2 linked regions of the Homo sapiens genome follow. The protein of the gene in region 2 interacts with the protein of the main gene of each other region in a biochemical or structural test. Each region holds a gene or a part of one and is shown on either strand. Other genes may lie near its edges. The genes, in order: IRAK2 and ARAF.

Region 1 (3,815 bases), on a different chromosome or scaffold from region 2:
AATCCCAGCACTATAGGAGACCAAGGCGGGTGGATCACCTGAGGTCAGGAGTTCGACACTAGCCTGGCCAACATGGTGAAAGCCTATCTACTAAAAATACAAAAATTAGCTGGGTGTGGTGGCGAGCACCTGTAATCCCAGCTACTCAGGAGGCTAAGGCAGGAGAATCGCTTGAACCAGGGAGGTGGAGGTTGCAGTGAGCTGAGATCGCACCACTGCATTTCAGCCTGGGTGACAAGCGTGAAACTCCGTCTCAAAAAACAAAAAAAAAATTGGGGGAGAGAAAAGAGGAAAGGACTTCCACAAGTCAAATGGAAAGAGAACTTTGGGGAAATACGAGTTCTGTGTCTCTGGAGCCAGTTCTGCCAGATATTCTGGTATCTTCGGAATCCCTCCCTATCCTAACCGTCTCCAGATGGGGACCTCTCCCTCTCATGTGCATGGCACTGACATGCAGGGGTGCAGGCCTAACCTGCAGGAGCCTTCCAGACAAGATGCTAACACCAACAGCTACACAAGAAGGGGACAGGTCTCAGAAAAGACACTGAACGAGGAGCTCAAAATCCCAGGGGGTTGGCAGACATGGCCCAAAGTTCGAGGATGAGGTCCAGGCCAGCTGCTGAGTGGACAGTGCGACGCAGCAAGGTGTGGAGGGCTTGTTGGGAAAACAGCAGCTCAGAAAGACAAATGTGACAGGTAGGCAATTCATCCTGAGAGCAATTGGACTTGGAGCACAGCCCGGAAACACTCATTTTTGAGGGCATAACAGAGAAAAAGACATCCAGGGGAGGGCAGAGGAGAGGAGGTAGGAAGAGAAAAACAAAGAGGACAGGGGTGAGTGGCGGAGCGGGAGGTGAGCCAGGAATAGGCACCAGTTCCACCCTTGCAGCCCAGGCCCCAGCAGGGTCCAGCCCACCTCTCTCACCTCTTGACGTTGCTGTGGATGATCTCCAGACCATGCAGGTACTCGACGGCACAGAGCAGCCCTGAGCAGATGCTGACACGCTGGGGCCAGGGGAGGGGGTCCGAGCCACCCTAAGAGAAAGAAAAGCAGGAGGACAAATAGTCACAATGTACCTTTTTAAAGTCCTGATGGCAGCCAGGTGCGGTGGCTCACACCTGTAATCCCAGCACACTGGGAGGCCCAGGCAGGCAGATCACTAGTTCAGGAGATCGAGACCATCCTGGCTAACACGGTGAAACCCCATCTCTACTAAAAATACAAAAAATTAGCCGGTCCTGGTGGCGGCTGCCTGTAGTCCCAGCTATTTGGGAGGCTGAGGCAGGAGAATGGCGTGAACCCAGGAGGCAGAGCTTGCAGTAAGCCGAGATTGCACCACTGCACTGCAGCCTGGGTGACAGAGCGAGACTCCATCTCAAAAAAAAACAAAAACAAAAACAAAAAAACGAAGTCCTGATGGCAGGGTCCCAGGCTCCTGATCCTCCTCCCACCCTTCATGTCCTCTGTCACAGGGCTCAGCATGATACTGTGAGTTTTTTCATTGTTTTGTGTTTGCTGGTTTTGAGACAGGTCTTGCTCTGTCACCCAGACTGGAGTGCAGCATCATAGCTCACTGTAGCCTTAAAATCCCAGGCTGAAGTGACTCTCCCGCCTCAGACTCCCGAATAGCTGGGATCACAGGCACGTGCCACCACTCTCAACTAATTTTTGTATTTTTCGTGGAGACAGGGTTTTGCCATGTTGGCCAGGCTGGTCTCGAACTCCTGGGCTCAAGCGATCCGTCCACCTCGCTCTCCCAAAGTGCTGGAATTACAGGCATGAGCCATGTGCCTGACCCTGTACTATGGGTTTTGACATCAGACAGATCTAGGTGTAACTCCCAGTTCAGACATGCATTAGCTGTATAATTTTGGAAAAAGACACTTAACATCTCTGAGCCTCAGTTTCCTTGGGTATAAAATGGAAATGTTAATCCCTATATTTTAGGGTTGCTGTAAGGATTCAAGGGAGTATATGGTATACCCCTAGCATAGCACCTGCCACACAGTAGGTGCTCAATCAGCAGTTATTTTTATCATGTCCATTACAGAGGCTGCTCTGGAATTTCTCTCTAAAAGAAGCTGGATGGGAGAGGAGCTAGGGAGCTTGTGTTTGCAAGCCAAGCACCTGGGCCTTACGCTGATTTTATCTGTATTAGGGGAAACTTCACCAGGGCTGATGGGGATTGTGGGATGGGCTAAAGCCTCTCATTTGCTCCCACTGTTGTTCTAAGACTGACTCTCCCAGGCTAAATCATCACCGTTTTGGTTTTTTTTTTTTTTTTTTTTTTGAGACGGAGTCTCACTTTGTCGCCCAGGCTGGAGTGCAGTGGTGCAATCTCGGCTCACCGCAACCTCTGCCTCCCGGGTTCAAGTGATTCTCCTGTCTCAGCCTCCTCAGTAGCTGGTACTACAGGCACACGCCACCACGCCTGGCTAATTCTTATATTTTTAGTAGAGACAGGGTTTCACCATATTGGTCAGGCTGGTGTCAAACTCCTGACCTCAAGTGATCCACCCACCTCGGCTTCCCAATGTACTGGGATTACAGGCGTGAGCCACTGTGCCCAGCCTCATCACCTATTTTTGAAGCCCTGGTGTAGGTCCCACATCCTCTAAGAACTGGCCTGGACAGCCCCTGCTAATTTCTTCTCAAAAACTCTGAAACCTAGAGCCAGACGAACCCAATGTAAGCTCTGGCCTGACATTTGTCCTCTATGTTCCTTTGGGCAAGTCACTTTGTCTCTATGTGTCAGAGATTCCTCTTTTGAAAAATGAGGGAAGAAATTGCTTTGGTTGTGGCACGGCCTGGAGGTGATGACCTACGTAAAACCCTTATCACAGCAACCTGCATACAGTGAGTGCCCAGAAAAGCTAAAGATCATTAGTATGCCGTGAGTAACTGCTTTGTCTTGTCCCTGCCATGGGAAGCAATAATTCTGTTATGGAATAACTCTTTCCCCTCTATTTGAGGATAAGATAAGCAGAAGACCTGTTTTAAAACACTGTAATTTTTATTAAGGATTACCTTCACATGATATAATACTCTAATAGTAAGTTTGCTTCTTATCCTAGGCCCCAATCACCTAGTTCTGCTCCCTAGCAGCAGCCAGTAAACCAGTTTCTTGTGTATCTTTCCAGAGACATTCCATAAACACACAAGCAAATAGGTATATATTAGAAGAACATTTTATAATAAAAATTCACCTCCACTTTTCCATACTCTTTACCTCTTAATTCTTTTTCTTGTCCTACTGCATTGGCTAACACCTCCAGAACCATGACGAACGAAGTTAGTTCTATGAGATACCTTTGTCCTGCTCTTGATTTGAATGAAATGCTTCTCGTCAAATAATTTTTTATAGATTTTTCCTGAAGATGTTTAATCAGATCTTTTTGAGCTTTTCTTTTTCTTTTTCATATTTTGTCATCCTCATTCAGAGGCCATGCTGATCTTCTCTGTATCGTTCCAATTTTGGTATATGTGCTGCCAAAGTGAGCACTTAACCAGATCTTATGTATCCTGGCCCCACTTCTCTCCTTGAAGTCTCCCTGGTCTCACCTAGATGGCCCCTCTCCCCTCTGAACTTCTGTAAGTCCTTAACCCTTGACCCCATGGCTGGGTGCAGCCTGGTCCCATTCTCTGACCATGACCCAGTCCCTTACCTGACCCTGCAGTCTGTCCTGTAGGGAACCATTTGCCATGTAGGGGTAGATGAAGCTGTGAAACTGTCTTGCAGCACAGAAGCCCAGCACAGGTAAGACATTGGGGTGGCAGCATCTGGAATCGGGCGTCAGTGCAGGTGTGAGGAGTC
Region 2 (3,815 bases):
GGCGGGCTGCGCTGAGTAGGCAGGCAGGCAACTCATCGGCCTGGGTGCGGTGCAAGGAGGGTTCCGAGGCACTCCGCTCAATCTTGGGGAGTGACCGTTGCAGCAGCTCAATTGTGGCCAGGATCTGAGGGCAGGTGGGGGTGAGGAGGGGTGTCCAGAGCCCTGTGGGCATCCCAACAGCCCCAGCCTCATGGCGAAACACACACACACACACACACACACACACACACACACCCAACAGTCCCAGCCTCATGGCGAAACACACATACACACACACCCCCAACAGTCCCAGCCTCATGGTGAAACACACACACACACACACACACACACACACACTATACCTCTGAGCTTTCATATTCACATCTGCCTCCATCTCAGTCTTCCTCTATCCCAGAGTCACCCACCCAAGGTGTCCAGCCCCCTACCCAGCCCACCTGGGGGAAGAGGGGCCGCTCCTCCCGCTGGAACTTGAGGCAGTCAGACAGCAGGCGCCGCATGGCCTTGGGGCAGTTGCTGGAGATTTTGCTGAGGTCCGGGGACAGATAGCCACGGCCCACCATAAAGATAATCTGGGGGCAGACGGGGGCAGGAAAGGGGTGATCTGGGGTCAGGGGCTGGGAGGCCCAAGGAATTTTGTATTGAGGGACTTGGAAGGTTCATTTTTAGCGAGCTGGGGTACTGTCAGTATCAAGGCCCAGAGGATTCTCTGTCCTTGAGGACTTGGGAGGATTCTCTGCTTTCAGAACAGAGGGATTTAAATTTGGGGTTGTCAAGGATTGTAGGTATCTGGGGCTCAGAGGATTATAGGCCCACGGGTTTCTAGGAGGCTTAGGGACCTGGAAAGTACTGAGTCTCGGGAAAACATGGAGTTCTGGGTCTGGGGGAGCTTGTACTTCTGTGGGGGTCTGGGGCCTAGAGGGTTCTAGGTATCCCGGCCCTGGGGCCTGCTAGATACCCAAGGCCTAGGTGACTGTGGGTGTCCATGACTATTCCAGAAGCACAAAGGGGTTCTGTTTCTGGGGAAAAATGGGATGCTGGGAGAAATGAGATCTGGGCTTTGAGGATCTGGGGGATTTTGAGTACCCAGAGCAGACGACTATAGGCGTCTAGGGATACAGAGGGCTTTGGGGTATTTGGGGGCCTCAGGGGATTCTAGGTATAGAGATTCGGGGCATTTTGGACTTCAAAGATTTTTGTCCCAGAGGGCTGTGGATGTGAGAAGAGGGAAGTTGGGGTAGGGGAGACCCAGAGAATTTATTGTAAGTGTCTGGAGCCCAAGGGATTCTGGGAGTCCTTATCCTAGAAAATTTTAGGTTTCTGGGGAAAGTGTGGCATTTATCAGTGCAAAGGAGGGGATGTGGGGTATGGATGCCTGAGGGGATCCCTCAGCCCAGGGAACTGTGGGTAAGGTGTGGGGCTCACCTGGTCACGGCAGCCAATGTGGCTGTAAGGCAGTGAGCCAGTCATAAGCTCGTAGAGCACAACCCCGTAGGCATAGACGTCTGACTGGAAGCTGTAGGGGTTCGGGTCCTGCATACGGATCACCTCAGCTGCCTACAACAGGCCAGACCAGGCAGGGGGACCACGGAGGTCAGCAAATGGCTGGTCCACAGTCCCAGATCCCACTGGCCACACAGGGTACAACTCAGAGCCACCCACACGAGGTGGGACATGAGGAGTCCAGACACCCACATCTGGCACAGGCATCCCCGTCCCCACTTGGCCCCACACACCCCAATCCCGGAGCCCACGTCCCCATGTGCCCCCCATCCAGCCTGGCCCAACTCACCATCCACAGCACAGATCCTGAGGGCTGCTCCAAGGGCTGGGCCCCGCTCCATCGAGTCTTCACTGTGGCCAAGCCAAAGTCACCGATCTTCACCGTGAGCCCCTCATGTAGGAAGATGTCCGCCAGGGTCAAGGACCACTACAGGGACTCCTAATAGCCATGCCTCTCACCCTGCCTGGGAGGTTCCCATTGGTGCCCCTATACCACTCATCCCTCTGATCCTGACCAGGAGCCCCTTAATATCACGCAAACTATCCACAACCTTGACGTGGGCAGGGAACGCCTGCTAATGCCCCCCACACTCAGCCCCGCTGTGACTCCTGAACAGGAAGCCCCTCGGAGGGCATCCGAACCCACTATGCCTCTGATGTTGACCATAATGCCCTCCACAACTGTCAGACATCAGACTCTAACCAGAGTCCCCAAGAATAGTACCTGAACCAGCCACACCTCTGACTTCTAAGAGACTGCCATTAAAGCCCCCTGGCTGGCCACAGCTCTGCCACCTGGCAAGGAGCTCTGGGACACATGCCCCTCCCTTGTAATTCCCAGAACCCCCACAAGAGGCATCCTTCTAAGCCCTTGACACCCCCACTCAACCCCAGCCCAGGGACAGATAGATACTGTTAGACTTGAGATCTCGGTGGATGATGTTCTTGGCATGGAGGTAGCTGTGGGGGTGGAGGCAGGTGGCGGATTGGCTGGGGGTTACCTCATTTCCCCCACCCTTTCCCCCCACCCCTCCCCAGGCTGGGAGGCTCACTCCATGCCCTGGGCAGTCTGCCGGGCCACGTCGATGAGCTGGACCATGTCGAAGCGTGTGTCGGCCACATGCAGGTGATGGTAGAGGCTGGAGCCCTCACACCACTGTGTGATGATGGCAAATCCCGGCCGGGTCATGAAGCCCATAAACAGCAAGATGTTGACATGTCGCGTCTTCCTGCAGGCAGGGAGGGCAGTGTCAGAGGTGGGGAGGAAAAATAGCAACTGTCACTTACCGAGCATCAGGAGTGGCACTGTTCTTTACCTTCCTCGGTCATTTATTTTCACCCTGTCTTTTGGGGCACTCAGGACCAAAGCATTGCCAGATTCCATGAATTTGTGAGATGTGTTTACTGGGCTATGATTCTGTGCTGTGGGCTCATATGTGGAGCTTCCCCATCCGAGTCTCCCAACAAAAGCAGGAGGGAGGAATTGCTGCCCCTCCCCCTCCCTGCCTACAGCAGCATTTCTAATCATTAACATCCCCCACCCCTCTGACTCTGACCATTACCTGGGTCTGTGACCATCTCACAGATGAGAAAGCAGAATGCCAACCTTCCTCACTGATGTATCAATATAATATGGATAGATGCAGGATTAAAACATTGGTGATATATGATGATTAGAGCCTGTTCAGCAGCATGAGAAGCTTAGAGGTAAAGAGCTTGGAGTCTGGACTCATGTTCAAATCTAGGCCTCACCAGGTACTCAAGGTACAACCTTGGGAAAGACATTTAACCTCTCTGGGCCTCATGTTCCTCAACTGTAAAACTGATCATTGCATTAGCTACCTTATTCTCTGTAACATAATTGTGCCCATCTGACACAGAGGAAAAGCCAATGCCAACATCCCCAGGGTTGGTAGACGCTATCCAGTACTACCTGTAGTATATAGGTATACAGTACTATGCTACATAGTAACTATAGCAGCAAAAAGGAGACACCTGGCTTTCTTAGCGTGACTAGATGAATACTGTATTGATTACATATTACAGCAATTATAATAATTAAGCAATGATTAGATTATGGTGATGATGATAATATTGTTTAAATCAAGGTATTAGAATTAATGAATAACAAGAACCAACACTATAAACAGAACATTACCATTGTAGCCCAAGCAGAGGGGAAGGAAAGATGGAAGCCTTCCTGGCAATGCAGTAACAAGAATGGTGGCCCACACACAGACCCAGTTCGCAGCAGGCAAATGAGAAGACCCACATTTTGGAGGCAGAACCATTCATTAATAACCCAAACACAAACA

What was found.
Region 1: the proteins of ARAF (region 2) and IRAK2 form a complex in vitro, tested with the Homo sapiens proteins (one study listed by BioGRID).

What each region holds. Positions count from the first base shown.
Region 1 is NC_000003.12:10,216,900-10,220,714, reverse strand, and holds part of IRAK2 (interleukin-1 receptor-associated kinase-like 2), read right to left. Parts: intron 3,782-3,815; coding exon 3,667-3,781; intron 3,504-3,666; exon of another isoform or gene 3,396-3,503; intron 1,036-3,395; coding exon 926-1,035; intron 1-925. UniProt on the Homo sapiens protein: Binds to the IL-1 type I receptor following IL-1 engagement, triggering intracellular signaling cascades leading to transcriptional up-regulation and mRNA stabilization.
Region 2 is NC_000023.11:47,567,632-47,571,446, reverse strand, and holds part of ARAF (serine/threonine-protein kinase A-Raf), read right to left. Parts: intron 2,730-3,815; coding exon 2,553-2,729; intron 2,461-2,552; coding exon 2,414-2,460; intron 1,909-2,413; coding exon 1,790-1,908; intron 1,555-1,789; coding exon 1,423-1,554; intron 570-1,422; coding exon 435-569; intron 125-434; coding exon 1-124. UniProt on the Homo sapiens protein: Involved in the transduction of mitogenic signals from the cell membrane to the nucleus. May also regulate the TOR signaling cascade. Phosphorylates PFKFB2.